Linked DNA regions of Homo sapiens: region 1 is linked to region 2. The links come from fine-mapping of genetic effects on gene expression. A gene starts in region 2. The other region holds a variant in brackets. All regions are shown on one strand. Distances are from middle to middle.

Evidence for each region. PIP is the estimated chance that this variant, and not a neighbour inherited with it, causes the effect.
Region 1: its variant is fine-mapped to the expression of DCLK1 in vagina (GTEx, PIP above 0.99).

The regions. Positions count from the first base shown.
Region 1 is chr13:35,484,160-35,500,649 of GRCh38, reverse strand. The region is part of intron 41 of NBEA (neurobeachin); the gene reads right to left. Among named protein-coding and RNA genes, the nearest start is that of MAB21L1, 16 kb to the right of the region's middle. RefSeq lists an enhancer at 1-1,873. The variant T/C (reference allele first, on the strand shown) is at 9,122.
Region 2 is chr13:36,123,492-36,139,981 of GRCh38, reverse strand. DCLK1 (doublecortin like kinase 1) reads left to right here and starts at 8,600. Exons shown (of 17, transcript NM_001330071.2): 1 at 8,600-8,868; 2 at 13,826-14,220. The coding sequence starts at 13,845.

The sequences.
Region 1 (16,490 bases), 640 kb after region 2:
TAATGAATGCTCAAGAGGTTTCAACTTCATGTCTTCCCAGTCGTTTGTCCAATCACAACAGACTACCAGAAGAGAAAAGAGTAGGCAAAAAACACTCTTCTTTATCAGCCCCAGCTAGCACCTGTAACCTCCAAACAACTATATACCAGCTGATTTGACAAGGCAGCAACCCCAAAAGACAACTGGAAATGTTGTTGCTAGCCTGCTGAGCCTCCATCAGTAAAGGAGCACACCACACGGTGGATGACAGCTTTGTGTCTGTCCCATCCTGCAGCCTTTCCCCCTCTTCCCTGACACACAGTCATGCACTCACATAACAGTCTTATGGCTAATGATGCAAACATGAAGTGTAAAGTCTCTTTAATTTGACCCTTGTTAAACTCCTAATTGGATTGAAGCAGGCTCCGAGTGGAAAGCAACCCTGGATTGTTCAGGAAAGCTCTTGCAAAATGAAGCCCAAATTACAAAAGGCTGCTTGGGCTGCAGGACATCACAAAGAATAGGCAATGAATTGCAGCTGTCACTTAAGTTAAAAATCTAATCAATTGCCTTTTTTTAAACAGGTAACTTTTAGAACAGTTTCTTCATTGTGATACTCTTCAGAGTACGCTTGACCCAAATTTAATAAGCTGCTATTAAAGCAGAAGAGCAGCTGTAGAGCAAACACTGTAGAATGAGACTGTGCATTCAGAGTCTTAATGATTTTAAAATGACTACAACCATTGCTTCATTCATGAGGAACAAAGCTCAGGCTCTCTGCTCAACAATGTCTTAACACAAACTGTCTGAGCAGACAGCGTTCATTTGTCCTTCATGAACTGCAAAGGTCAGCTGCATGGCTGAGGATATCGCAACAGTTTAATTGTGTTTCTTCTGTAGGCAGTCTGAGGGGAGAAACTTAGGAGTCCTTGTATATGAAAACTAGCTTTTCTGCAAGGAAATATACAGCTTAAGTACAGAGACAAGCGGGTGCATGATACGCAGACAGGTGTAAAACATGAAGTAATTATAGAAGCTCAAATTAGTTCTTAGGCCTGAGGCAAAAAAGAGAACAGTGCCTGGACAAAAGGGAATAGCAAATAAGGGTAGCAAACAAAAAATGGCTTGAATGTGTAAATTAGCAAGAAAAATGAGACAGAAAAGCAGCTTTACTCTACTATTATTCCCCACATGAGAACAGAGCAGCTGAACATGATCAAGAGAGCTTTGGAGAAGAGAGGCAGGCATCAACACGGACTCCAAGCCAAAGAGTGGCAGCTCCGCACTTTCTAGTCAGTCACTCATTATGTGCTGAAGTGCTCTTGAGAAGTGCCTCTTATACTTGACCTATCATATTACTTCTTCTGTAAACACATAATCCCTGCTTGTTAGGTGGTGTCAACACTAGCATTCATTCACTATGGGAGTCTTTTTGTGAATAGACACTTTAGAAGTGCTGCCAAAACCAAAGAATTGACACCATAATAAAACAATTTGAATTTCAACCAGGTAAACAGATCTTATGCTTTGCTGTAAAATGCAATGTAAAAAGCATCACATCAATTTTCTCTCATTTAGAAAAAGAAAACCCAAAACAGCTTGCTATAGCAAGACTGTTTTCTTCTTAAAGTGATTATAATTAACTTGGGTTATAGAACCAAGGCCAGAAATAATACCTATTCTTCAATTGCCTGGTGTGGTCACACAAATTCCACTAAGTACTCTTTCTTTAAACAGCACCACCACACAAATCTCAACAGAAAGGTCATGAACACCTCATCAATAATATCAGAAAAGTATATGTCGTTTGTACCAGGCATAACTGAGCATAAGGTATAAGGGGAAAAAATTAATGGAGCATTTAGCACATTACATTTCCATTGGTGAAGACAGATATCATGTAATTAAACTATAACATGAATAAAAGATTTAATGTAGATAACTGAAAAATATGATTTTATTATTTTTAAATATACATTTTCTTATGAAGATTCAGATATGAAGCAAAAATATTTTCATTGTGCATTTGCATAAATTAAATAGTCAAGGAGAGAATACAATTTATTGAAGAGACTGGGACACTTTGTTTTTGAGCAGCTTTTCTTTAAGTTATCCTGATGATGTAGTCCCCACTCTCCTAGTGCTTTAAGAAAATCATTTCATCCTCTAATATTGCTACAACCAGTTCTAAAATAAACAAATCATGATGCTCTCATGTGGTATAGTAGCTATGTGTCACTATGGCTTATTCCATCAGTCATCAATGCCAGAGGACTCCTGCCTGTGGATCCCTTGTCCTAGGTACTACAAAGGAACCCATTTGCCTAGGGAGGAATAAATTGAACAGTAATTATCAATGATTTGCCATAGCTCATGAAAGATATATTGGTAACTCTTACTGGACATATAAAAAAACAAGATTAGCAATGAGAGATTTTCAACACAGAGAGGACTTTCTTTACAAGATGGACATTACAAGTGAAGTATTTAACCTATACATAAACAGTAAAATATCCTTATAAGCAAGTAATACTTAGTGCCTAAGAAAATGTCTACTAAGCATCTCCAATGCATTTCCTTTATGAAATTTGGTACATATGACCTTTAAAGAATAGAATTTTTGTGCAAATCAATACATGCTAAGATCTCCAATGTTAAACATCTACCATTAAATAATTTTGCCACTAAAATACCAATAGTGTTTGAGAAAAAGTCCAAATTTAAGCAACACATTCAAGGTAAAAAATAATAGCCAATATTACAAAGAATGTTTAGTAAGCTCTTAATATAAATAATCCATTCAAGTGGTTTTTATTCTAAATAGACTCTCTTTAAGCATTTGGTAGAAAATTAGTGGAAAGGCATAAAAATATTTGGTTATATAATATTAAATAAGATTATAAATACATAGTCTGAAATCTCCCAGACACCTGTAAGAGTTGATTCCTCATTTGCCTATCATTAAAAGAGATAATATACATGTCTTCCTCATTTTTGTACTTCAGGCAAGGTACTATCTAAATTGATGGGTCAAGTGTTACAAAACAGAGAAAAGACTGAAAGATACTGCACCCAGATTTATGCAGACCTTGCTGATATGCAAATTAATCTCTTGTAGGTAAACCAAATAATCTGGCTGCTAACTTCTTCAGCACTCTATAGATATCAGGTAGTTTACTGGAAGAATAATATGCTAAAATGTACTTCCAGAGTATGAAAGAAAGTCTAACTTACTGCTACAGTGTAATTTATGTTCTGAGAGAATATAGCAAATGAAATAATTTTTCTTATTAAAATCTTATTGAAAATTCCACTCTCCAGTAACAAAAACATTGTTTTAATGCAGATAAATATAAATGTTAAGAACATCTGGCAAAATAGATTTATATTTTTCAGTCCACTTTTTTGTATGTGTATATGAAATCATACAGAGTATAAGCACTTCCTCAATTTCTCCTACAGAAGGTTCCTTAGGCCCTGAGTGAATCACTTTAAGTGGCAATGTTCACAGCTTATGAGATAACCTATTGGAGGTGATCCTGGACTGGTGATCATATCCTTAATTTTTGTACAATCTGCATTTTGTTTTGCAGATTCTATTTTTAACTCATCTACATATCTAACTAAGCTATTTGCGTAATTCACAGTGCTTATGACTGAAGCATAGACTTAGGAGAAAGAGTTGCTTCATGGTTCTTTAGATTTGATAAAGTTAGGAAAAAGTTCCTTCCAAACCATAAGGAAGTTGTGCAATAATATATTTAGAGTTTGGTAAATTTGTTTGGGGGAAGGGAGCATTATTTTGTTGAGAAAGACATGAGATGTCCTGATTCAATATCTAAGTTCTAGCTCCAGTCCTGGGAGCGGTAGAGGTGCCTGCACACCAAGCTGCTCCAGTTATTAAGGCTTCTCCTTGACTTTTTGAGAAAAGACATATTGCAGGAATTAAACTTATCCTTGCTAGAAGAACAGCTATTAAAAACCACTGTTTGACTTTTCTTTTTCTTTTCTTTTCTATTCTTTTTTTTTTTTTTTTTTTGACAGAATCTCACTCTGTAACCCAGGCTGGAGTGCAGTGGTGACAATATCGCTCACTGCAGCCTCAACCTTCTGGGCTCAAGTGATCCTTCCACCTTAGCCTACTGAATAGCTGGGACCACAGGTGTGCACCACTATGCCTGGCTAAGGTTTTCATTTTTTTAGAGACAAGATCTCACCATGTTGCTCAGGCGGGTCTCAAACCCCTGGGCTCAAGCTAACCTCCTGCCTCAGCCAATCAAAGTATTGGGATTATATGAGTGAGCCCCCACACCTGGCCTTGTTTGGCTTTTCTACATAGGACTTTAAAAATCCAATTTAAGGAACACAATATATGAAAGTAGAGCCAGGCACAGTGGCATGTGACTCTAGTCACTCTCAACTACTTGGGAGGCTGAGGTGGGAGGATCCCTTAAACCCAGGAGTTTGTGTCAGGCCTGGGCAACATAATGAGACCTTGTTTTTTTAAAAAGGGAAGTACAATACTGCCTATATCTTACTGAACTGAAAAGTACAGTTATAATATTCTTCCTTATTTTGTGCTGTAACTTCCACCCAATTATCTTACTTGTGTCCTCTGGAAGGTCATGTATACATATTAATATTCTCCTTGCTATAAACGACAGGCTTCTTAGAGGAAACTATTATATCCTACTTCATCCCCATCTCTACCATCCAAATTAGACTCCTTAGTTGGGTACACTAGCCTCAGTTCTTTCAAGTCACATGGCATGGTTTCTATATCATTTATGAATCTTGCCTATCATCCAAAGTATTTGCTGTTCAGTTTGTCAACTGTAGAAAGATTTTTAATTCCATTGTGTCAAAAAATCTTTGTATTATTTTAATCCTTTTAAATTTATTGAGGCTTGTGTTATGGCCTGACATATGGTTTATCCTGGAGAATGTTCCATGTGCACTAAGAAATTTTGCTGTTCTTGGGAGTGTTCTGCAGATGTGTATTAGGTCTGGTTGGTTTATAGTGTTGTTTGAGTCTTCTATTTACAGATGTGCCCTGACTTATGATGGTTTGACTTATGATTTTTTGACTTTACAGTGGTGCAAAAATGATACATATAAAATACACTCCTCAATTTATGATGGGTTTGTCAGGATGCAACACCCTTGTAAATTGAGGAGCATATGTCCTTGTCAATCTTACATCTAGTTATTGTCTTCATTATTGAAAGCGGGGTATTGAAGTTTCCAACTATTATTGGATAATTTAATATTTCTTTTTTCAATTCTATCTGTTTTCGCTTTATGGACATTGGGCTTTGTTGTTAGGTGCAAATATATTTATAATTGTTATAACTCCCCTATAAGCTAATCTTTTTTGATTACAAAGTGTTTCTCTTTGTATGTAGTGGCTTTATTTAGTGTAAAAGTCTATTTTATCTGATATTATTGTAGCCATCTCTAGGTCTTTTATGGTTGCTGTTTGTGTGCATATCTTTTTTTATCTTTTTATTTTCAACCTATCTGTATCTTTGAACCTAAACTGGGTCAAAACACATAGTTAACAGCATCTGGTTGTATGTAGAGAGCACAGAGTTGGATCTTATTTTTATTTTAATTCAGTCGACAGTCTCTGATTTTTTTTTCTTTTCTTTTCTTTTTTTTTGACAGAGTCTCACTCTGTTGTCCAGTCTGGAGCACAGTGGTGTGGTCACAGCTCACTGCGGCTTCAATCTCTATGGGCTCAGGTGATCCTTCCACCTAAGCCTCCTCAGTATCTGGGACTACAGGAATGTGCCACTATATCCAGCTAATTTTTCTATTTTTTGTAGAGATGGAGTTTTGCCATGTTGCCCAGGCTGGTCTCAAACTCCTGTGCTCAAGTGATCCATCCATCCCAGCCTCTCAAAGAGCTGAAATTACGGAGCCACTGCACCTGTCTCTGATTTTTTATTGGACTGTTTAATCCATTTACATTTAATGCTATTATTGATATGGTTGGATTTACATCTGATATTTTGCTTTTCGTTTTCTGTATCTTTCATATCTTTTTTGTTCACCTCTTCCTCCTTTACTGCCTTCTTTTGCCATTCCTTCACTTGTTTTTTAACTACATCTATTTAGTTATTTTATTAGCGATGGCTCTAGGGCTTACAATATATTAGGTTGATGCAAAAGTAATTGCAGTTTTTGCCATGAAAAGTAATGGGAAAAACCACGATTCTTTTGCACCAACCTAATACATCTTAATTTATCAGACTACAGATTTATTTTTCAAAAATTTAGATCTTATTTGCTTACCCACAGGATTTGAGGCAGACTTGACTTTTTCCCTTAAGTCTTAATCACATTTTTGTTACCATTGTTGATCAGAAGGTGCCAAGCAAAATTCTCTAATATTTTGCTCTCATCTAGTCTTCTGACATATCTCACTGTCTCTGTAATTCCTCAACAATGATTGGTCCTTCAATCAAACCTCCAAATTCTGTTAGTACCCTGAAGTCATGAATTCATTTAAAGTGATTAATTACTTTCTTACTATTTTCTTACTTATCATTGGTTTTGTATTCCTTATATTCATATTCATTATACCCTTTATAAAGTTACATAAAGACAAATATATAGAGTTGTTTTTAAAAATATTTAATAACTAAAGATTTAAATTTGAAATTATACATTATAAAGAAATCATTAAATTTATAAAATGAATTCATTTTTAAAAGATTTATTGTAAGGATCCTTTGAAGAATAAATTCACAGATATATTTAAATATAATTCAAATAATAAAAATATGCTAACTTTTCAGGAAGGTATATGTTGCACATGACGAGATACACCTTTAAAGGTAAAACTGCTGCTATTTTGTACTCATCTCAAAGTTAAATAATACAGAGAACTGAATGAATTTTAGAAGGGAAATCATCTACTCCAATGCCTTCATCACACAGGGCAGGAAACTAAGCTCATTAATAAAGATTGTATATTCTATTCAAAAAGGAGCAAGCTCTAAAACCCAAGCTTTCTGGTTCCTAATGGAGGGCTTCCTCACTCTACTGGGAAACTAAAGAAAGTTATATGATATGAAAACACTTAAGAGTAAAGTATCTTTGGCAGTTTTACATACTTCAAATAAAACATATGACTAGGTCCTACCAAAATATCCTGATGGACACTTTGGTAGTATTGGAAACAGATATACTAAAGTGGATTATCACTTGGGCAGACACCTAAAAAACACTTTCATATGGAATGTTAGGGTCTTTTAAAATAAGAGTCTATGAATTCCCTGGCTCCAGGAATAAATTTAAATAAACTCCCATATCATTAGTTGTTGATGATAAAACTGCTTATCAAATCTCTCAAAAGTATTCAAAGCATTAGGCTACAAAGGATTTCATCAAGTTATCTTTTGGCTTCCAAAATCCCAGCAACCCCTCTTAGGCCCATTTGTTTGTTTTGTGCAGGCTCTGGTGACTCAGATTGTCTCCTGTTCCATTCACTTAACAGCATTCATTCTACTCTTCATGGGTCTTCTTTCCCCAAAATTCTTTCCCTCTCCACCCAGAATCTTATAATCACTTTTAGAGAATTCAGTATTCATATAGACAATCTATTCTGTACCTTAATCTTAAAATTCTTTGATTTCTTTGTATTTCAGCAGTCTATGCCTGTGTCCATATTCCGCTTAGTAAACTATTCTGCCTATGTTTAAGCTATCTCAGTCACTTATCTATTTAGAAATTTTACTACATCTACTTTTCTCCTTCATCTAGGGTTGCCAGGTAAAGCAGGATTCAGCATCGTTATCTCCCATTCCTTTTAGTGACAGTTTAAACATCTAAGTCCCTTCTTGAAGCTTACCTCAGTCCCAGTGCTTTAAGTGCCAAGAGAAAACTGAGGCCTAGTTGTATAATCCACCAACTTTAAAAACCACCATCTACAAATTTATCTTCCACAATGCAACAGTTTCTTCCTGCTACATTTTCAGATCTCCACCTGTTTATCCTAAACCCAACATCTCACCCTCCACTGTTACAAATACATATGGAATAAAATAAAATGCAATATTAATAATTGTGTAGAGTTTATCTTCAAGGAAAAAAGCCATCTCTCATTGTAGCCTCAAGACAATGATACCATTTCCTTCTACTGATCTTGGAGATAGAGAGACCTCCATGATTTAGTCCTTCATTTTAACTTTAACCTCTCCTCTATGGCTTCTTTCTCTATGCCCTAAATATGTTCAAATACCTTTAAAATTTTTTCTTGCATCACTTCATAATTACCATACTATCTCTTGCATTTCCTTTATTTCTACTTTTTAAAAATTGTTTATTTCCATAGGTTTTTGGGGAACAGGTGGTATTTGGTTACATGAGTAAGTTCTTTAGTGTGAGATTTTGGTGCACCCATCTCTTGAGCAGTATACATTAAACCCAATTCATAGTCTTTTATCCCTCATTCCCTTCTGACCCTTTCCCCCTGAGTTCCCAAACTCCACTGTGTCATTGTTATGCCTTTGCATCCTCAAAGCTTAGCTCCCACTTATGAGTGAGAACATACAATGTTTGGTTTTCCATTCCTGAGTTACTTCACTTAGAATAGTCTTCAATCCTACTTTTCTTGAAAGTGTATTGTCTACCTCACTTTCCACCTCCGATTTACTCTTCAATCCTATTGTGATCTGCTTCTGTCTCTACAATTCCATTGATACGGATGTGGAAAGACAAAGAACTTTTTATGTTATTTGAACTCTATGTGGTAGCTGAACTGTTGTCCACTAACTTTTTATTACAACTCTCTTGTGTTTGGCATTTAAGATAGTCATATCTGTTAGTTTTCCGCCTTACTTTTCTGAACATTCCTTCTCATTTATTCCTATTGGATCATATTCCTCACAGAGGAATATTAGTGAGAAGCTATGTTCCCTAGCATAATTCCTTGTACTTTTTCTCATTCTATATTGCCTCAGATAACCAGTAGTACACATACAGGATAATGGGCACCAAAAATAAATTAAGAGATGATGGTGGCTTGCAAGGATGGAAGCTGTAAAGTTGGTGAGAGATGGGCAGAGTCTGGAGGATTTGTTGACACTCTGGATATTGGGTACACAAGCAAGCGAGGAGTCAAAGATGACAGCCA[T/C]GTTGTTGGCCTAAGAAACCGGAAAAAAGGCACTGCAGTTTACTGAGGTACAGATGACTGATGGAGAAGCAGGTGCTCAATTGGGAATCTAAGTTTGAAATGCATCTTATATATGTGAGATGATGTGGAGAAGACCACTGAACATACCAGCTTGAAATTAAGGGGAGAGGTCTTGGCTAGAGATATAAATTTAAGAGTGATCAATGTATAGAACATATTATATTGGCGAGTATTGTTTGAAAAATCCTTCACTCATTCAGGCACTGAGTACCTGCTATATGCTATCAAAATAACCAGCAAAATTAACAAAATCTTCCACTGGGAAGTACAGAACAGATGATATTCATTTAATTATTCATTCAACAAACATACCTAAGCATGATGCTACATAAACTCAGAAGTCTGGAGATAGAAAAAGCTGGGTTTGAGTCCTATCTTTGCTAGTTACTGTGTGGTCTTGGGTAATATAAGTTTAAAAATATTCTTTTTAAAACACATAAACTTTTATGTGTATTAATTTATTTAACCTGTGCAACAACCCTATGACACAGAATTATCCCTGTTCTACAGATGACAAGACAAACTTAGAGAGGTTCTATATGATGACTAAGAAAGCACACTCTGGAGCCTGGGGCCAGATGGCATAGATGAAAATCTTAACTCTGCTAACTCCTAGCTTTGTGAACTTGGAAGAGTTACTTGAATTCTCTGTGTTTCAGATTCTTAACAATGAAATGAGGCCAGAAGTTTCTACTTCATAGTGTTGAGAAGATGAAGGTACATACAGTAATATAGATAAAGCACCTAGCAGAATAACTTGCAAATAACAAAAACTCAGTTTTAGCCAATTTTACCAATTTGTTCTTTGTCTTGTTTAAAGATGTAAAAATGTTCTTAAAAAAATGACCTGCAACTTTTCATCAAGTTCCTAAGACATGTTTTCGAGTGTTTAGCTGACTTTTAGGCAGAAGGTAAAATATGAGAAACAGTAACTTCTTACGTCAGGGTATACAATTAAGACTAGAATTTATCTGAGGCTGGATTAGGTATCCTGTAATGAGATTCAGGAATCTCCAACTGGTCCTTTGGTTGATAATCAGTCTAGTTGGTGATCTACATTAGTACAGGTATTTCAGTATGTCTAACTAATAAAGTGGTACTTGCCCTTAAGGGTTTTGTTATCTGGGCTCTAGAATATGGTAAATATTAAACACTGGAATCAATAGGTAAAACTAACAATTCTTAATAAATTCTACTATAGTTTCTAGACAACAGAAGATCAAATAGGACATAGCTTATAAAACTACTTAGCTGAAGTGGCTCCACTATCTTATTTACTGAGTATAAGGCTTTAATAAAGTTATAGCCTTCTTTTGTTGGCATTTGTGTCTGTCCTCATTCTAGTGTGCCCTCAGTAAGCTACCAGATCTGAACCCGCACAACAAAAGTGCCACTCATTGAAACAGTTATAACAGGAAAGGAAAGCAAGTTGATGGGATTTACAGCGTTACAGGCCACTGAATCACTGACTACTTGGTGAGGGCACGTAAAGAAACATCATTTTCAACACTGCTAGGACAGTGAAGCCAGGTTAATGAAACAGCTTTGGAACATGAAAGCTATTCATAAAGTTTTTTTTAAACTTCAGATTTCCTTGGGAAACCTAATTAAGAAATAGGAAACTTCCATTAATAATTTTCAATTATTTTACTTGTAGGTTTGATTTCCCAGTGGTACATTTTTTAATGAGCTTTTATTGCTTTATATTTTCTATGCTATTATCTACTTGCAAGTGCCATAAACATTTTGAGATTTAAACAAAAACATAAAATGTTGAAGAACTGGCATTCTTCTCAAGCCTGGGGACTAATAAGTAACGTAAAGTTTTACTTTGAAACATGTTTCTCAGCCTTTCAAATACCGAATTTACTTTTGATGTCCATCAGCTAAGCATAAAGTAGCTGTATCAACACAATGCTAGGAAAAAATAAGTGGCATAGATTATGATTTGGAGAATTCTTAGGGATCAGAGAAGAGCATAAGAATAAATCACTTAGAGAATTAGCTGTATTCCAGGCTTCATTAGTTCTAATTATCCCCCAAATATGCCCAGCAGAATGCACTTGGGTCAGCTGGGACTGATACACAATAGAGTAGGCAACTTATAAACTCCTCAAAGCACAGAAAGAGTTCATAAAACGACCGCTTGTGCATTTAGATTCATGTGATAACACCTCTTATTGCATAAGCCACCAGATGAAACAGATGGGGCAGCTCTTCACTTGAGAATGTTTCTGTTGTAAACGCACTGGACTTCTTTATTCCCCATTCAAGATACAAACTGCAAGAAAGCCAAATTTCAGGCAGGCTGTCTTTGTCTTTTATTGCCTAGATGTCACAGCAGTAATAAATAAAGTAGTAATGAAACATCCTCATTAAAAAAAAAACTTGGCAAATAAAAACATGCGCCTGCACTTAAAGAAATTCAAGGCTTTAACACAAAAAAGTTAATGCAATTTTTTTGCCACCCATACAGACATAAATGTATTTTGTATTTTACAAATTACTTAATTAATATATATTAAAATGCATTTTGTATTTTACTACTGCTTCTCAAATGTGTTTTGAGAATTCTCAGAATACGTTTTTTCCAACAATGTATTTAATACTTAAGGGAGGCCTCTTTGCCCTACATTCACCAGTTCACTCTGTGATACTGAATATTCAGTTCTAGGCACTGCACTTGAAGAAAACAACTGAGCATAATGGGTCTTGTGACTACTTTGGTTTAATTTACAAATTTTCACATTGGCTTCAAGTTATTAAAAATATCACTTTTTAAAAGTATTTACCTCTGCTCATGCTAAATTATTTAGAAACTCTTGTTATTGTCAAAAGGTTAAAATATGTAGATCAATATGTTGGTGATTCCTATAACAGTCTACAAGTCCTAGAAGCACATCTATTTGCATTGAAAGTTTATTAGTTTGCTAGTCATTGATCAAGCATGTGGGAAACCTGCAGATTTCATTTGTAGATACAAAATTTATTGACAAAGCAAAATTGATAAATGCCAAAATACATAAAGTATATACTTTATCCCAAATGAGGCTTCTTAGTTACACATTTCGATAAAGCTATGAAAAACTAATATTAGGATTTTAAATATTTGGAAAAAAAACTATACGAAGGCTGTGGAGTATTTAGTAAATTCAATGTATCCTGAGGTCTTATTAAGTGGATTAGCTTCCTTCTACACTTAAACTGAGCAAAAACATTAAATTCATTAAAGTTAGATTGTTTTGCTCTGAATATTCTATGTGTAGCTTATGAACACATTTTTAGAAAGAACTGTTATGCCTATTGATTCTTAAAATAATGATGTATAACTTATTATTATAAGTCAAGTCACGGAAAAAATACCTAAAAATAGCAAGATATGAGTTGGATGAATACAAAAGTCATGTACTTAGGACCTCGGTAATAATATGTTTAAACAAATAAGATATTTGTTGACATACAGCATTTATCTGCGTGGGTATGGATATGCCCAAAAAGCTCATGTGACCCATGTTTCGCTATTATTCTCCACTTTACATGTACCAATCCATTCTAGGAGTAATACTTTCTAGGCACCGTACTTGAAGAAAATCATGTACCAGAATGGCTCCTGAACAGTGAGGTGACTTAAAAGATGCCAAAGGTGTAATAGCTGAAAGACTGGAGTATGTTCAACTTGGTATCTGAAATGCTGAATTTAAAAAGCATATATTTGTTAAAGGGATAATACTATTCAGAAGGGAAAGTAGGGGCCAGAAGGTGAAAGTTTCAAGGGGAAATATTTTGGTTCAATATTAGGAAGAGCGTTCTAACCACTAGAACTGTTGTAAGTGCAATTAACTATCTGAGTAGGTAGTAAGTTTCTCATTCATGGAGGTAAAAGTAGAGGTTAGATAACCACCTCTGGCTATGGTTGTTACCATGGCTGGTAATGGTGTAGAGAAGATTCAGACAGTTATGAAGAGGGTTACATTGCATTATCCTCCAGAGTTCTTTCCTGCCCTGATATAAAATGTCTGACTTATGCGGCAGAATTACTTTTTTCCCTGATACTAACTGCATGACACATTTTAGTAAAATTTTCACTGTAAGTTTTAATTTTTATGTAGAGTGAAATACAAATTGAGCATAAGTACTGATTAGTAACTATAAGTACTAATTCTATATAAGTACTAATATAATTCTACTAATCAGTACATAAAATAGTCTTTATATAATAATATAATCATATGTATCATTGAAAAAATTTCCTCACATTTTAGTATCTATACCAAAGAATAATTTACTACAGAATAAATACAACTGGCATTGGCATAGCTTTCTTGGAAATGACTGCACTTAAATTCATGATCAAAGGAAGTTTTCAATGTGTCTTGAGCTGAAAAACAATATTGTGGGTGGTATAGCTCACTGATATTACATAGTAAAACTATGATATGGATAAACCTTTATAAAAGAAAAGTATATAAATATTTCACTCAAGTAATTATTGAAATAATTGCTTCTCCTCATCACATTTATAAAGGTATATCCCATTAATCTTAAGTTTTACAATGAAGTGGTTATCTAGGTGAATTAGTCCAATTTGATATTCAGTAAACAGTACATATCTTTCCTAAATAGTTTCTCCCAATGTGATAGATCAATACATTATCCTTATAAAATTAAAATTTATAACATAAAAGTATCTCAGTATTTACCTATTTAAAAGCATCCTATAAAGAACCTATCTTTAAAACTCATCAATTATGTTGTTTATGTAAATGCAAGCCTAGTAGCAGTTTCTATGAATTATATCTGGCTATGGACATATGTAGTCTAGAAACTGTAATGCTGATGGCAGCCACAGTCAGACAGACCTGGCTCTGCAATTACCTGTGTGACCCTGGTAAGATGCAACCTTTCTAAACCTCAGTCTCTTTATTTGTAAATGGGAGCTAATATTTGTTGTGAAGATTAAATGAGATTAAATACTCATTAAATATTGGTCCCTGTTCCTTGTCACCCATCTTTCCCAGCTCAGAATTATTTTAAGTATCAAATGAATTAATGGATATAAATCCTTTGTAAATTGAAAAGAATGTTGCAATTGTAAAGCATTATCTCATTTAATAGGTAATTTATCCCTCTGAATTACATTATGGTTAATGGTGTTCATTATTGTTTTGAATAATCCATGTAAGTATAGGTTCTGTAATATGATAAATTTCTATAGAACAAATTAATAACTTAAAAGATCATATTTGAAAATACCCAGAGAAAACAATCATTAGCAACAATTATTCTCTAAATCATTTTGGAATAACTAAGTTTTAATGACATAATATAACTATTGGCTTGGGACAGGCTAGGCTTGTACAAGCAGTGGGAGAATTGAGGCTTTACCATTCATTCAGGTGAAGAGAAGAACATATTTTCCCTCAAAATTTCATCAGCCTATTTTTTAGACTAAACAATCTGGAGAATTTTCTCAATTACCTATTACCTGATTTATACGCAGAGTTCAAATACACACTCTAAAGTGGTTGTGAAGTATGTCTTACCCAGAGTTTCTTATTTAAGAATATTACAGCATTCAAGGGTAAAACACTGTAAATCATACAAATACTGGAAACTTTTAAAAGCATTATTTGATATTATTCTGATTTTTGTTTTTAAAGATACAGATATTGAAACTATCACAGCTGATCATTTCATTCTGACATGAGTTTTAAAGGTTAAGTTACTATCTGAAGAAAGGTAATCTGGTTGCCTTTCACAGCAGCCTGCAAGCTCTGCAATCTGCATAGAGAGGGGCATTTGTCATCATTAGCTGAGCTGTGACAGCTGGCACCCAGGGTGTCCCAGAATCAAGAAGTGGCAGAGACACTCTTGGTTTAGGTTGCCATTAAGTATAGTAGGTTTCTTGAGGATCAAGTATATTTTACGAAAAGCTTTGCGATGTAACTAACAGTAGTGAACATATTTGAATTTTCCATAACATGGATAATACAACGATAGCACATAATTAGCAGGTTGCCTCTAGACAACAAGATGCCAGATTATAGTATGAATAAACATCTACTGCCTGCCACTTAGAGAGGTAGAATTGTTTTCAGTACCCTAACAGCTCCAGCAGAGTGGTTTTTTCAGGGCTGGGTGATTAATTAAGTATATTGAAGGAAATAGGTTAAAGATGGAGAGGACAGTTCTCAGATATATTTTAAATTTGGTTGTAAATAATACATAACTTCCCAAGAATTAGCTAAACTGTACACATCCAATATAGCACCCATCTTTTTTCATAATATGAATATGAAAATTAAAGTAATTCATATAGATGCAGTCTTCCAATTGGCTGAAGTGTACGTAATTGGTAATATGTATTTAAAAATATTCCTTGGCAAAAGTTCAAAATCAAAATCTTCTTACCAAATGGGTGCTACTATGAGTCTGAAACAGTTGTGGTAAGTATATCTAGAAAAGAAGTTTTAAAACTTTAAAATGTTATAAATATGTCTTTTAGATCTTAATGTAAAACTATTTATCAAAAGAAAGTTTAAATTATACAGGTTGATCAGACTTTTGAAAATTTAGAATACTACCACCCCTCTAAAGTCATCAATGCTTGGAAACATAATCAATAACAGGGGTTTTATATTATTATGTAAACTAGTTTTCCACAAATAAAACTAATTTTTGTGTTAATGTAAAATCTATGCAAATACATGCAGTCATTTATCAGGAAAGCTGACAAGCATTCCATATTGGAGGGGAAATGAAACTGCCTCAAGAATAGAGGCAATTAATTATTTCTGTATTTTTTCTTTTTCTGTCTTGAGGCACAAAAGTTATCCATCCAGTTAAAACAGCAAATGAAATAAAGAGATTTTTTTTTTATTTAAACACATATGGCTTTTGCCTGCAATACTGATCACCACAAGGTCTACAGATGCCCGTGGCTAAATTGTACACTGGCAGATGCACACAGGGGAAAACTGTGCTAATGCAGCGTGGAGAGCAAAACAAATGAAGAACTGAAATTGCCAGTAAAAAACAAAAAACAAAACATCCCACATTTTTCCCCCTGAAGAGTTATACATTTTGTTTATCAAATGCAGGTTAAGGTTGCAAAAAATTTAAACTTGGTCTGTTGCAAAAAAGTAAAAAACAATTTTAAATTAGTGAGGGTCTACATATATATATATATATATACACACACACACACACACACACACACACACACACACACACATATTAATGTAGGTAAATATTTAAGTAAATTTTTTCTATGGACAAAATGGCTAGCAATAAACTTCTCAATTTCATA
Region 2 (16,490 bases):
ACTTTGTTCACTTTTCCTAAATGCCTGAAAACCATTTTAAACTGAATTGAGAGCTTCAAGGCTTTTTAGGTCACCAGGAGTATATGAATTTAGGCTGCAAACCTACATGAGGCCCAGAGTGTATACCTAAATTCTTAGGGAATATTTTCCTCCTTAACCTAAAACAAAATGTTGAGATAGGCACCCTTTCTCTGACAGTGTATGGGGTTTCCTTTTCAGCATTTCATGATAAGCATATTCTAGGTTTTGTCTCCAATCTTCCTGCATTGGGAGGCTATGAAAACTAAAGCTCAGTGCTCTCAGGGTAAAGCCAATTTGAGTTCTTTTTCCCTTTGTGTGTGTATTTGTTACTTGAACCACACCCACTGATTTTTATAAAAACAATATATTCTATCATTTGGCCTCACATTTTATTAGAACTAAGAAGGGTAGGAGAGTTTTTCAGAGTTTGGTGTCACATCCATGCGTACTAGGTTAGTGTTGTGAAAGTTCTGAGCACTGGGTGGGGGGCAGTGGGAGGGGAATATGCTTCATTCTTTGTGCAGTTTTTCAAACTATTTTCTTTTCAAACTACAAAACCAGAAAGTGTTCATGTGATAGGGCATTAACATAGAGATACACAAAGAAAACGGCAACAATCTGTCTCCCCCACTATTGGCTCCTTAGCAGCCAATATTTACACTTTTGGATGCATGTTTATCCTTAGCTCTGTAAGCTCATACAATTATATGCCAACAGATACACAATACAGATTCTCTTTCTTTCTCTTCATTACCAAATAATGAGATGATACTATAAATATTTCTGCCACTTGCCTTTTCATATAACAGCATATCATATTCCTCCACGTCAATATATGTAGCCTAAGTCGTATGTTATTAATAGAAGCATGTTATTCTGTAGTATGTATATATGTGCTCCAATTTATTCAGCCATTTCTCTATTTATAAACAGTAGTTTTCCTGCCAGAATTTTACCATTGATGGTAGGGAAAGATCAGCAATGAACATTCTAGACACAATTTTATTTGTACTGGTGCTTTTATTTTTGTAGAATAGATCTTGCTGGATCAAAGGCTGTTTGCGATTTGCTTTCCAAAAAAATTATAGCTGTTGTATAAGAGTGTCCTTTCCTCCATATTTTAGCTAACAATATATTTTATCAGTCTTTCTAATAGATGCCAGGCTGATGAGGGGAAATGCATCTCATGTTTGCCTTGTTTACTTCAACCTGAATTTTCAATAAGGTTGAGCATCCTTCCATATGATTAATACCCATTTGCATCAACTCTAAAGTGGAAAACTGCATACACTTTATTCATTTTTCTATCAGATTGCTTGATGTTTACCTATAAATTTCTATGGCTTTTTGTAAGTTAGAAAGAGTAATCTTTGTCTGTCACATATATTTCAAATATTTTTTCCAGCCTATCATTTGTTTTTTGACTTTGCATTTGGTGTATGGACATTTTTATCAGTTTCATTGAGCTGTAATTTACATACAATAAAATTGACCTGTTTTAAGTGTACAATGTGGTAGATTTTGACAAATAGGTACCTGTATGTAACCATCACCACAATGATGATATAGAAGTTTCATTATCCCACATATTTTACCTATGCTTCTTTGTAACCAATCTTTTCCCACCTCTAGCCCTGTGACCACTGATCTGGTTTTCTTGCCTTTTCTGGAATTTCATATAAATGAAATTATGCAGCATGTAGTCATTTGTGCCTGTCTTTTTTCACTGAACATAATACCTTGAGATCCCATGTTGTGTGTATCAGCCGTTCCACTTTTTAAATAGCTGTATGCATATTCCACAGTTTGTTTATCCATTCACCAGTAAATATTTATTTCAGTTGTTGTTTTACCTAATATGAATAAAACTGGTAAAAAAGTTTAAATACAAGTCTCCGTAAACATATTTTTCTTTTTCTTGGGTATATATCTCGGTATGGGATTGATGGGTCATAGAGTAGGTACAAAAAAAACTGGCAAATTATTTTTCAAAATAATCATATCATTTTATATTCCAAATAGGGATGATGAAGAGCTTTAGCTGCTCAACCTCCTCCCCAACACTTGGTATCATCAGTCTTTTTATTTTTAGTTATTCTGTTGGGTGTGCAATGGCATCTCATTGTGGTTTGGGTTTGCATTTCCCTAAAGACTAAAGATGTTGGGCATTCTTATGTGTTCTTTGGTGATGTGTCTGTGCAAATCTTTTGCCTTTCTACCCCTTTTTTTGTTCTGTTCCCTGTTGAGCTGTAAGAGATCTTTATTCTGGATGCAAGATCTTTATCAGATATATATTTTGCAAATTTTTTTTGCTACTTTGTGGCTTGCCTTTTCATTTTCTTAACAGTGTCTTTTGAAGAGCAAAAGTTTTTTAATTTCATAAAAGCCATCTTAGCTAATTCTTACTTATGTTTCATGTTTTTGGGTCTTCTCTAAGTAACCTTTGTATAGCCAAAGGTCACAAAGATGTTTTTCCCATATTTTATTCTAGAAATTTTATTGTGTCAGTTTTTGCATTTAGATTTATGGTACATTTGAGTTAATTGTTAAATGAAAGAAGTTATAATACAATACATTACATCTGTTAGCATCCTACATTTTTCTGTTTAAAGCTACACTTTTGGTATATATACATATACATGAAAAAGTTTAGAATATATATGTACCAAAAATATTTTGATTTTTTTCACTTAAAAGATTATCAACAGCAGAAATGTAGTACGTTTTCTCTTTGTTTAAAAGATACCTTTAAAAATCCACTTCTACAAATTAAATTAAATTTTAAAAGACTCCTTGGGATACATTAAAAACTTGCCAATGACTCTTTGACTTTACTTATGAAATTATTCAGTCTACAGGCGTATTTTATAAAAGGACAAACACTATTGTCTAAGCCCCTAATTTAAAAAATCCCAGGTGTTTCAGGTGAGGTCTGCTACATGCTTAGAAGACTTACATAACTATTGTGACTTCTTAAATATTTGTATTCTATAGAATCAGTGAGAGTTCTCAGAAAATATAATTATATAAAATATAATTAACAGAGTAGCATACAGTATTTTAATATAAGTATACATTAATAAATATAAAAAGTAAATTATTTGTTTCTAAAAAATTTCTGGAACAAAGAGTGTGGCTAAATAAAATTCTATTTGAAAGCATTTTAGGGCTTAGCATGGTGGCTCATGCCTGTAATCTCAACACTTTCAGAGGCCAAGGCAGGAGGATCACTTGAGCCCAATAGTTCCAGACCAGACTGAGCAATATAGTAAGACCTCATCTCTACCGAAAATAAAAAAGTTAGCCAGGTTTGGTGGCAAGTGTCTGTAGTCCCAGCTACTCAGGAGGCTGAGGTGGGAGGATCACTCGAGCATGGGAGGCTGAGGCTGCAGTGGGCCGTGATCATGCCACTGCACTCATGGCATGGGTGACAGAGTGAGACCCTGTTTCAAAAAAAAACAAAAAACAAGATGTATTTTAGCAAAGGTGACTATTTTTGAGATTAATTTTAGGATCCTTAAGTAAAATTTTCATAATTTTGGGGTAATTACTCCATTCCTTGGGGCAGTGATAGAATGTATAAGTAAGTATACATTCTTATTTTTCTGAAATCCTTGTATCAAGAATAACCTGTAATTTTACATAATTTTATTTTTCACTTGGAGATGCCATATTTAATCTATGGACTTAAAGAACTCTGCAGATTTGAATACTTTACTAAGTTCAGATTCACTTCTCTGCTTAAAATCCTTCAGTGATTTTCCTTTTCTTTAGGACAAGTCCACATTCCTTAATAAGGCCCTCAGGATGTGGGGTGCTGTCCCCTGCCCACTCTTGCAGCTGCCTCTCTCCACTCTGTCTGCCTGTGCCCCAGCCACTCTGCCCACCTCTTCTTCCTTGAACAAGCTGCTTCCCACTCAAAGTCTTCACTCAGCTATTTCTTCTCCTTGGAATAATGCCCTTCCCCCTTGTTGCCTGGCAAATTTCAGGTCTCTGCTTAAATGTTACTTCCTCGGGGAAGAAACACTCTCCTTGAAGTTATTTGTGTTCTTTTCCTTCACGGTACTTAAATAATTGTTTGTGTAAGTATGGGTTTAATCCAATCTCCCTACAAGCTACCAATGCCTGGGCACAGGATATTTGTAACTCTATCTCATGATTGTATTACTTCTACCTAGCATGGTGCCTGGCACATTGGAGACACTCAAAAATTACTTATTAGATGAATGGATGAATGAATGAAAAATTATGTGGTCTGTAAAACTCATGACCTCAAAATGGCATTGAAGTCAAGGATATAATCCTTCATATAAAAATGTGAATTTTCCTATCACTGGATCTCTAGATAATTATTTTCTGGAGAGAACATGTTAACCTCTAATTACTTGAGTACGTTGAGAGAGTCATTGGCCATCAGCCATCAACCTGGAGAGAGACCGTGGGCAGTAAGGTGATGGAGCCTGCTGTGACCATGTTCTGTTGAAAGCTTTTATCAACAACTGAGATGATGATGTTGGTGCAGTGTTAATCAGACTGATAGGATGCTGGAGGGATCATTCAAGTATAATGCGCCCTCATTAGGATCCAAAAGGATCTCACTCAACAGGTTTCAATGGGGGAGCAAATAACAATACGCAAGGTTAATAAAGGAAAATTCCAAGTGGGCACTGGACTTAGGTCCCCCAAATCTAATTAAACAAATGCAGAATGAGTGGTCTTAAGAGCAAAACATGTGAAAAGCATGGAGATTTTTATTGACTGGATGAGTCAATAGCATGGCATGCCTGTCAGAGACATTGATTAGACGTTAGCTTCCTATAATGGAAGCACCGTGTCAACAGCCAATGAAGTCATGGAGCTTCCCTAGTCAGACCACCCCTGCTGTGCCATGCCCAGTTCCGGGAGGCAGATGTGGAGGGAGACACTGACAGTTGCACTGCTGTGAGCATTTCCAAAGATGTCAAATGAGAAGCAGTTGAAGGGCTGAGGATTCCTAGTTAATGAGGAGTCAAATTTGGGAGAAAGTAATGAGACTGTCAAGCAAAAGCCAGGACCATTTGATTTGTTCTCCACAGGTCTAAAGGGTAGACCCAGGGTACACAGGAAAATTCCAGGGAAGTGGATCTTAGTTGAATTTGAGGAGCTGTCCAGCAGGGGAGTGGGCTGTGCAGAGTTCCCCTTTACTAAAGCAAATTACATTTAGGCAGGAAACGAAGAAAAGAGCTTTCAGAAGCTCTCTGCTAGTTTATAGAGGTTCTATGAGAGTAGTAGGAGCCTTTCTTCCTCTGTGTAGGTCCAGAATCTCATGTAGTTTGGACCTCAGCATGTTTGGAGGGCCAAACCAAAGGTAAACAGCCAGTTAAAACAATTATTTTTAAAGATCTCATTTACTGTGTCTAGAATTCCATGATCTATCCTAACACTCAAAGGGATAATCTTATTCCTCTTCACTTTTGCCACAGACGCAACAGAATGGAGGCTGGAAGACAACTTGTTGTGGAGGGAATTCATGCACTGGGTAAAAATTGATAGGCTTCTGCCAAGGTCTGACATCACCGAGTTTCTGTGATTCTAGTAGAAGCCAGAAGTATGTTCTCTGTAATTAGAGGGAATTAGACAAACTATCAGGAAATGCCATACAGAGCCTTCAGAAGAAAAGAAATACAAAGGAAAATCAGACTGACGATTATGTTCTGTAAAGCTGCTTCTCACAATTGTGGCAGCCACTACATATACACAGTCTCCCAACCCAGGAGCACTATATGCCCATAGCCACAGAGGAGAGATTATGAATGAGCCAGAGCAAATTCTTCCTCCTAGAGGGAAAAACAGGAAGTGTATCTCTTCCTGCTCATATTCTCATTCTACAGTTCTACTCGCATCTACATGATTAAGCATATTGTTTATGAAGAAGCCAATGAAAAGAACCTGAAAAAAGATACATGGTGAATTATAAAGTATTATTCCGAAGAATAATGGTTCTCTGTCTCTTTCCTGGTTTGCACTAAAACCTTACATTCAGGAAGACAAGCACACTTAGATAAGATTATCCATCCTCTTCGTTGCCAGAGGTTAAAGTGCAAATGTCCTCATGAGAAGTTTAGTCCAAAGACACATTTGAGGGGATCCATCACTAAAAGAAGCAGTGTTCATGATAGCAAGGAGTTAACTCTCTGTTATGAAGTAATAAGCTCTTTGATTAAAAGACTGCATTTTCCAAAAAAGATTACACTTTGCACTAGAATTTGGTATTGCTTTATAAGCATATGGCCTTAGCAATTGAAAAACTGACTTGAATTTTAAAACATACCGATTTTAAATATTGAAGTTGGGCTTGACATTTTTAAGCTACATGACTGTGGGCAAATGATGTAACCTCTCTATGTCTAAATTCCTTCATCTGTAAGATGAGGATAATAATGCCAATGCCTACCTTGCATGGTTCTTATGAGAATGAAGTAAGAAAATGTATGAAAGCCCCCAGCATGGCAAAAAGCAAGCACTAAATTAATGGGAGCCACTGAGAGAGTTGAGGCCTAGTCATTTTCAACCTGTAGGATATAGAGCTGTGTCTGCTTGGGGCGGTAGTTGGGGTACAGCTTAAATAGCATTTGCTTTTGGGAGCTAGAATGAGATCTCCAATACTTTCAGATGATCCTGGGGGAAAGGATGTATTAGTTCCATTCACTTCTTTGATCAATATCTTAGTAATATAAAGGAAGTAGCATTCGTTTTTGAAAATTACTTGAATTAGGAGTTTTCTAGTTAGATTTCATTTCAATAAGGAATTATTGTTGAATATAAATTAGATTTGCCAAATGCTTAAGCTGCCCTGGAATGAACTTTAGTACCAGCCTGCTGTCCTGGACTAAATGATATGACCATACTGTAGGGCCAATGTATACTATTTAATGTCTTCATCTACTTAATTATCAGTTGCCCCCTGGTTTCCTTAAAGAGCTAATGATGCCCAACTATTTCTAGTGAGAGCACTTTGCTACTGAGAGAGTCAAACACCAAGGTGATTCTCTGAACACATTATCTGTGTGTGCTAGGTACAACAGCTAGGAAGAGGTAAGATGATGGTGAGTTACTTAAAGCTCTTAAGAAATGACCCTAGTAGAATATCCATAGGGGTTAAGAGATGAAATTTATTTCTTGGCTTAGCATTTTGGAAGAAATCACTTGGCATTTGTCATTGGCAAGATAAAAAGAAGCTCTGATTTCTGTTCTCCAGAAGATGTACTTGGCTTCTTCCTTTCTCTTAATTTACCCCTATGGCTCTCATTTTGCCTCAGAATGTGAAAGAATAGGCTTACTACTTTGCATTTAGTTAATTTGGTGAGTTCACTGTACTCTCATCTCTGGGCTATTAAATAGTTCAAAAATAAATATCGCATCACTTGTGGAATATGTAGCATGGATCTCATTTGAGCTGTGTTTTAAAACAAATGGTAATTATTTAACATTTACATCATACTTGGAAAGTATTTCAGAATAGAACTTTTTAATAATAAGTAGTCAAACACATAACTGGGATCAATGGGCAAGAGAAAAATAAAATTTTAATGTTCCATTGAAAGGTGTAGGCTCAGGAAGAGAGAAAAATACTTATGTGTATTTTGTATACTCATGTGTATTTGGGACAAACACAGGTTGTGGACGACAGGATTGAAAGTCAGATTAACTGGATCAAAATTCAGGCTGCGTACTGAGCCAGTCTAAGATTTCACCGAAATCTGGGAGCTGCTCCCACTCCCTGGACTTTTGTGCAAAGACTGGAGGAAGCTGTGAACAGCCTGGGCTAGGAGAACATTCCCCCTCTGGGAGGAGAGGCTCGCATGAGCTCATGGGGCTTTCCACCGCAGACCCAGCCTTGGCAGCCACAAAGTGTCCAGCAGTGAAACCTGGCCCTTCAGTTCTCAAGGGCCCTTTGGAACATATTTGACTCTAAGCAGAGGTCACTATTCCAAGAGTGACTCATGTCTTGGGGTTAAGTGGAGATGATGGGTGGGATCCATGAACAGATCCAGCTCTTCCCAATGTGGGGGGCACCAGAGTGCATAGCTTGGGAGGGTTGGTCATCCGAAGAGGCACTGCGTGGGTGCATCCCGGGCAAAAAGGATGAGAAGGTGATCCACTGGCTTCCATACCCTGGGAAAGGTGTCAGACCGTGAGGTCACATCAAAAGGTATGAGTGTGGGTACCTCCTTCCCTCCCCCGACGGTGGGGGCCTCATCTCTCGGCCATATCACCTCTGTGCCTTGCACACTTCCTGGCTCAGACTCAGCCCTGTCCACGTTCTCTTCCACCATCTGATCTGCCCCCATCTCCCAAAGACTACTTGTGGGGACTAGGGAGGTTTAGGGGTGTAGTCAAGCCAGATGCACCGAGGTTGCTGCGGTGGGAAGAGGGCGCTGGGAGGGAGGAGGACCTGGGGCGCAGCCGTGGTGGGTGCGCCCTGCCAAGAAGGGCGGGGGCGACGGGGCGCGCACGCGGAGGAGGAGGAGGAGGAGGGAGACGGGAGGGCGTGTGAGCGAGTGAGACAAGAAAAGGGAGCGCGCCCGCCGCCGCCGCCGCCGCCGCCCTCCTCTGGAGAGAGAGGCTGGAGTGAGGCTGTGCGAAGCGCCGCATTTCAATGAGGACGGGCCGAGGCACATCCCTGCACTAGTGGCCGCAACCGAGGCGCCGCGCTCCAGCAGCTGCTGCCGCCCAGCCCGGCCCCGCCGCCGCCCCCCAGCCCTGCAGCCCCGCAGCCCCGGCCGCGCCCAGCCCGGCGAGGACAGCACCAGGAGGCGGCCCCCAGCGCGGCCACAAAGACCCCCGGCGGCGTCTCTCCGCGGACCGGTGCGTGGTTTGCCTTCCCTGGGGACGGGAGCTGCGGGGAGGGCGGCCGGGGGACTCCGCAGAGCCCGCTCCGCCCGCAGCCGCGGGGCGCCGAGGGCAGGGCGGGCGCTCAGCTTGGCCCCGCCGCCCCGCCCGCAGTTCCTCGAAAGGCGGCCGCCCTGCCCTGGCCAGCCTGGCCCGACCCGGGGGCGTTGCGTGCGGGCGGCCCCGGGGCTGCTGGCACCTGCCTCTTTTGTTTGGTGCCATGGGGCTTTAAACCTGGAGTCAGGCGAGCGGGCCCTCCCAGGCTTTTCGCGTTGTTAGTGGAGATGGAGAGCCAGGGCGGAGGAGCTGGGAGAGGTGCTTGTCATTGTCAGAACTGGCTGCGGAGCGGGAACCAAGGAAGGAGTGGCCGGGCCCGGCCTCTTATTGTGTGTGTGCTTTTCCGTGTGCCCGGGCCAGTGATGTGTGCTTGTGGATGGGGTCGATTCGTGCGTGGTGGTGGCTGCAGCGTGGGTGTTGCAAGTACGTTTGCAGGGTCTCAAGTTCCTTCAGGGACAGCGAGGCTGCCTCATGTTCAAATTAGTACCTGCAGTGCTAAAAGCTTGCGGAGAGGAAATGGCATTTTTTCCTCCTAGTGGGAGCGCACGCACAGCCCCGCAATGCCCCACAAAAGAGGCTGCTTTTGAAAACCAGGTTTGCGCGGAATTGCTCCTGGATTTGGCAAGGAGATGCTTGGTCGGTGAGAGAGAAGATGAAAGGTTTCATTCAAACCGGCTCCCTCTCTGCTGCACCTGTGAGTGTGTCCAGGCACGGTGCACACACGTTCAGCGACCACACTGCAGGCTGTTCCGTGAATACATTTTATGACTGTTCCTAAATATATTGCCTTTCAGTGGGAAAGGAAAGTAGGACAGCGTTTTAAGTATGAAATGTCACATGGATGCAGGTCAGAAGGGATTTTTTAAGAGAGGTCATATAGAGGAAAATTATAAAAGATATGCACACACCCTGTGATGTCTACGTCCGTGGTGGTGCACGGGCCTGGAAGGTATGTGTGCGTTTTATTTCATGCCAGTCCACCTGAATCCTAATCCCACGGTTAAAATATGCCTTGGGACTTCCAGGTCCAGCATCTATTTAGATGTGGTAGCATTTATGCCATTTTTTTCTTGGTATATATGTGTGTAAATTTCTGAAACAAGAACCATGTGCTCATCTAGAGAAGGATGAACATAGATTCCTCAAAATGGTGAGAAATCCCACCGAGAACAATCAGGGATGTTGGTTTCTTGAAATGGCAGGATTTATAGGAAAAGCTCTGATGAGAGCCAGTGGCCCTTCTTACCTCCAGTGTCTGTGGTCGCTGTGGCTGAGGTGCTGTGGTTACCATCCTGGTGCCACTGCACATGTGCACTCAGGCCCTTGGCCACCTATGGTCTCTGAACATTGAGCTGTGTGTTCTCGCAGCCTTCCTGTGCAGAAAGTGTAAACCTGTGGAAGGCCAGTGGATCTTCAGAAGCTCATGCATGGTTCAAATGTATGACTAAGCCAAGGTGAGGGAAAGAACACCTATTTTGTTGCCACGAATAATTACCAGCACACTAGGGTGTGGAGTGTGCTCCATTTAGAGGTAGCTGTAGCCTTGAAAATGATTTCACTCTGAGTATGGTTTCTTTTGTCGACACCATTGCCCACTTTTGGACAGATTCAGGGAAGGGAAGTAAAAGGTGTAGCCCTGCCCTGGATGAACCTGTGATCCAGTTTGAGGAAATATGCAAATAAAATGAAACAAAGTAAACCTTTTTTCTATTTTAAATTGTTCTTTTCTTCTTTTTTCATCTGGTGTGGGAATTCTTGGTCCTAAAAGCCCGTTCCCCCAGGGAATTCTAACTATTGCCAAATTATTTGGCCTTTGCCAATTGTCAGTCACTGAGAATTCGATGTGCACTCTTTCTGGTAACAGAACTGTGCCATCCTTCCCTATGGCCCTGCTTGTTTTCTTTTAGTTTATATCAATTTGGAAGGAAATCCCCAAACTCCTAGTGTTGGGAGAATGATCACTGCCTTTAAGAATAAAACACAAACTTCAAAAGTGAGTTTGGCCTTTATAATTTACAAAATGTTGAAGAACTTAGTGAGTTGGTGTGAGTACTGGGAGTGTCTTCCACTCCACCCCCAAGACACACTCCCTTTTAGAAGACAAGAGAGCTCACTTTAAAACCATATAAATTAAAAAGTAAGAGCAGTTACCAATATCCTGGACAAAAATTGGTTCTGTTTAACAACTAATGCCTACAGGACTGGATATCAAGGGATCATTGTTTTAAAGTTATCTAACATCAAAATCAATGAAACCAGTTCAGAGCTGCCTATATATAACTGTTTTTGAAAAATGCAAATTCTGACTACTATGAGTTATTAAGAGGCAAGAAATAGTTTTCATATTTGGAGGGAAAAAAGTACACTGAACTCATTAACACTCCAGGTTTAAATCACACTTCATTTCTCCCTCCCCAGACCTTCAGTGGGGTCAGCAATAGACCCATAAGCAGGTAGATAGAATCACCAACATCAGAGGCCTGCTGACCACTGCTTCCTCTGTGTGCAGACGAGGTCTGGATCAGTTATGTGGCCTGTCCAAGGTCACTGAGCTAGTTAGGAGTGAGGGCTTACAAAATCCTGCTTCTCATGCTGAAGAGGAACCAGTTTCAAAGGAGCAAGGGATGGAAAACACCAGCTTTGGAGTTACAGTAAATCTGGGTTCAAATCTCAACCCCTCAGTTATAATTTTGGGACCCTGGATAAATTCCATATTCACCTGAATATTAATAATATTACCTACCTTGTTGGATTAATATGAGGTTTAGAAGAGAATTTTTAGCATATTATACAACTGGTTGATGAGTAATAGTGTCAGGTACCTCCTAGACCTTCAGTAAATATTGCTTTCTTTCACTTCATTTCTGGAGTACCAAATCTCTAGTCATGCTTTCAGGTGTGAAATTTTAGCCACTCTGAATGGATCAGAGGTCAGTTTACTGAGGGCCAAAGAAAGGTTGGGGAGACAGTGGTGCATTGGTGAGTGTTCACTGACCTTCAGAAAGGTGATGTCCATCTAATATGGTGGGACTTGGGGAGTGCTTGTAAGGTTCTTGCTCCAAATTTTCCATTTTCCTGATATTCTATTTCAACATGCCTGAAATTTTGTCATTAAAGTGTCTTTCCTTTGAATGCTTTGGTCTTTCCACTTTCTAGATTGTCTTGTTAAACCACAGATTCCCCTGCAAGGCTCCACAAACCTTTATCAACCAACCCCTCAGCAAGGATGAACTGGTCCTCCAGTCAGCTTGCTGTGGGGACCAGGGGGTACAGATGTACCTTTCAAAAGGTCATGAGATGGAGATCAGGAAGAAAGCAGGGGCCTCTCTTGCCAGAAAGGAAAGATTCTATTCCTGCTAGCTCTTTATGTGTCAGGGCCAGGAACACAAAAACAGATTTTATTAATAAAAAAATTAGTACTTATCACATGTCAGACACTATGATAAGAACTTCATGTGCATGAATTTATTTAATAGTTAATACTGACTGTGAGGTAGGTACTGTTCTCATTCCCATTTTGTGGTTGAGGAAATCAAGGCTTAAAGATGCTGAGCAAGTAGATTTTTCAAGCTTACACAGCTAGCATGGGGTCAAGTGTAAATCGACATCTTTAAGCCTCAATTTCTTCAATCACAAAGATAGTCTTAATGAAAGGAAGAACCAAGAAATGTACTTCCAAACATTTTTTCCTTTCTTGTTGTTCCTCTTCCTTCTCCTCCTTCTCTTCCTTTTTCTTCTTTTTTTAAACTCAACTTTTCTGAAGTACTAAATATAAGTAAATGAAGTATAGTGAATTTGCTTTTAAAAATATTGAATGTGTGAATATGTTGGAAAATCTTCTTTAAGTTGGTCCAACCTACAGATTGATTTAATTTGCTCTCCATCTGGCCATGGGGCACACAAACATTATGTAAAACTTTTACAATCTGACTGTTATGCTGCCTGCCCTCTCTTTCTGTCCCAGCCCACCATAGCTACTTCTCTTTCACTGTATGATGATATGAGAGCTTATTTTCTTCCTGCTACCAGGATTAGCCCTCTGCCCTGCAAGGAGCAGTGGGCTTTGGAGTCAGGGAAACCTGGAACAGAGTTGCTGGTACAAGCATTTCTCAACTGTATTACTTGGAGCAATTTAGGGGAAATTTTTCTGTGCCTCAGTTTCTTCTTTTGTAAGGAAGGACAATACTTTGGAAAGTTGTTGTGTCTATTGGGAATAATATCTGTTTGAAGCCTGATGAACCATGGGCAACCTAGGAGCTGCTTCTAACAAATTTGTGGCTGATTAATAAGCTGTTTCCACTGGGATCGGCCTCTTCTGCTGACAGCGTGCAGAGGAGCCTGTGTTTATTTTGTGGGAATTCACATCCCTTTCTCTTTCTGTCCCACTTGATAACTCATATTAAATGTGTCATCAGTTAAAGCAATATTTCCACCCAGCTGTTCTGAAGCAGACCCTTTGAAATCATGATCTCAAAATAACATCATCCCCAAACTTTGGGAGGCCAAAGGGGTTGGGGGGCGGGGGAGGATCACTTGAGGCCAGGGATTCAAGACCAGCCAGGACAATAAAACAAGACCCTCATCACTACTACTAAAAACAAGCAAATGAACAAAAAATGAAGGAAATTAACCAGGCGTGGTGCAGGCACCTGTAACCTGTAGTAGTCCCGGATACTCTGGGAGATTGATGCAGGAGGATCATTTGAGCCCAGGAGTGTGAGGCTTCAGTGAGTACTTCAGTGAGTGCCATCTCACTGCAGCCCGGTGACAGAGCAGGACCCTGTCCCTAACATAAAAAAAACAAAAACAAAAAAATATATATATATATATAACCTACATCAATATGTGTGTCTGCTTTTGTTTCTGGGGCTCGTAGGTCCTACTTGAAGTCCATCATGTCCTTCGGCAGAGACATGGAGCTGGAGCACTTCGACGAGCGGGATAAGGCGCAGAGATACAGCCGAGGGTCGCGGGTGAACGGCCTGCCGAGCCCGACGCACAGCGCCCACTGCAGCTTCTACCGCACCCGCACGCTGCAGACGCTCAGCTCCGAGAAGAAGGCCAAGAAAGTTCGTTTCTATCGAAACGGAGATCGATACTTCAAAGGGATTGTGTATGCCATCTCCCCAGACCGGTTCCGATCTTTTGAGGCCCTGCTGGCTGATTTGACCCGAACTCTGTCGGATAACGTGAATTTGCCCCAGGGAGTGAGAACAATCTACACCATTGATGGGCTCAAGAAGATTTCCAGCCTGGACCAACTGGTGGAAGGTGAGCGCTGTGAGATAACCCCCACGTGACCCTACAGGTTCCAGGCTCAGATTTCCAGTGTTGTAGCCGATTCGCATTTGCCCTCTGACAGTTGACATTCAGCCTTATGGCTGTGATCCTTATAGTTTCAGACATACGAATGTGCTATTGTGTAGAGTAAAAAGGAAAAAAAATTAATGGTATTGTCAGGTAGCTTATAATAATGTGCTAAGGGAAAAAGTCCCTAATTCTACAGCATTCTCTATTTTCTTTCTCATACCCATGCTGCATTAATTTTAAAAGTCCATTTTATCTCTTCAATCTCATAGTTTATATTCGTTTCTAAATGCAAATTAAACTTTTGCTATCACGATATCCGAAAGTACTTGAATTGAAAATGACAAATGGATCATGAAATTTTAGAGTTGAAAGGAACCTTAGATAGCTATCAAACCCATTAATTTTATCTTTGGAGTCTAAGGACCAGAAAATTCAAATGACATGTCGGTGGTTACGTGGTAAGATAGTGATGACCCTGGACCAAAACAGGTTTTCTGACAGCTCGTTCCACTGCGATGCTTCCTTTTGAGTTTAAAGGATTATTGTCTTTCTCTGATTTTTGAGGATATGCAGGGACTAATCTGTTCAGTTTAATTTTTTAAGTCCAATTTAGGTTAATAGTCATTATCTGTTTTAGACATTTAATGTGGAAATAGGACTGTTTGCGTCCACGGATGCAGCCTGGTATCTTATGCAAGCAGAGAAGGTCACCGACTCTGGGCTACACTTGCCTCAGGACTGACCCTGTTTGAACAGGGCATAAAGCCTGTCATTGCCTTAGAAATCATCGCCAATTAAAATGAGTTGGAGAAAAAAGACTGGGATTAAATGTATACCAAGGTGCAAAAAAAGCTAGCAGATCCTTTTTGGAGGGTTGATTTTTCTGAAATTGAGATCTCAAGGCCCTGATGATGAAGAAGTAGATGGCACAAAAGAATCTGGGAAAGGGAGGTTGGATGGAGTGTTGGAAGAGCTTGATTTCACCTTGAGTTCATTTTTACTCCAGAACTATTTGCTCAGGCCGTGTAACTCAACTGGGTCCAGGAGGGATGCCATATAATCCCTCCCTCTCTTGTGCAGGTAGCAGGAAGCACCCGTTGCAGCCCCGTTGGAGTTGGGGGCTGCTCTCCCCTGACCGCACACTGACAGAGCCCTCTTGTCCTGCTTTGTAACCAGTGTATGTATGTGATTCAAGGCTGGGGACTTCTCCCTTTTTGCTTCCCTTCATCCCTTGGCAGAAATGCCAGCCTGATCACAGTGTGACTGGCCTTGAGAGCGTGCAGAGGAGCCTGTGTTTATTTTGTGGGAATTCACATCCCTTTTCGGTGACTTGACATGCTGCCAACATGCCTGTGGACTTGGCCTTTTTCCTTCTATTCAGAGGGTGGAACTTCCAGTAAATTAAAGGAGAAGAATTAACATGAAATTTTACTGTTTCAGCTTTAATTTCTGTGCCCTGTCCTTTGCATGACCTTTGGAAATCCAAGGTTAAATGAAACATTTGGTGGTATAGTCTAGGGGATCTGGATAAAAGTTATACGCAAAGTCAGGTGCATGACCAGTCAACAAGCCGTCCCTCTGAGGGCCGGTAGTACTGTAGGGAAAAATATGGCAAGATCTCAAAGCACATCCTAAGACAGCCATGGGTTGACACCTCACTCTGTTCCAGAGTCACTTGTGTAGCATCTATGGGGGTTGGGGTACTTCAATCAGTTTCCCACCCAGAAATGATCTTTACTTAGAAGTGGCCGAAGATACTCCAATGACTCCCATCCACCAAGGAGAGGGTCTGGGAGGTGGTAGATGACAGTACTCCCTTCACATCTAGGGACCAGCAAAATTATGGCATGCTTGTCACCATCTTCTTTGTCTTTTACTGCAAAATAATGCTTTCTCTGAGGGACTGATGTCTTGACTGAAGGTAATAATGATAGCTCTCAGTTATTGAGCATGTGCCAGGCACTGGCCAAATCCCTGCATATATGAATACATTTAATTCTCACAATGATCCTAGGAGGTGGGAACTGTTATCCTTATATTAAGGTGAGAAAAGGAAGGTACAGTGTGGTTAAATGATCTGCTCAAACTCACAAAGAAAGAAATGGTAGAGTTAGGATTTGAACCCAGGAAGGCTAGTGCCAAAGCTTGAGCTCATAACTACCTCTAAGATGCTGTGTGCTATGAATTCAACTACTATATTGAGTTTTTCCCCTCAATCAATGTGAAGTAAC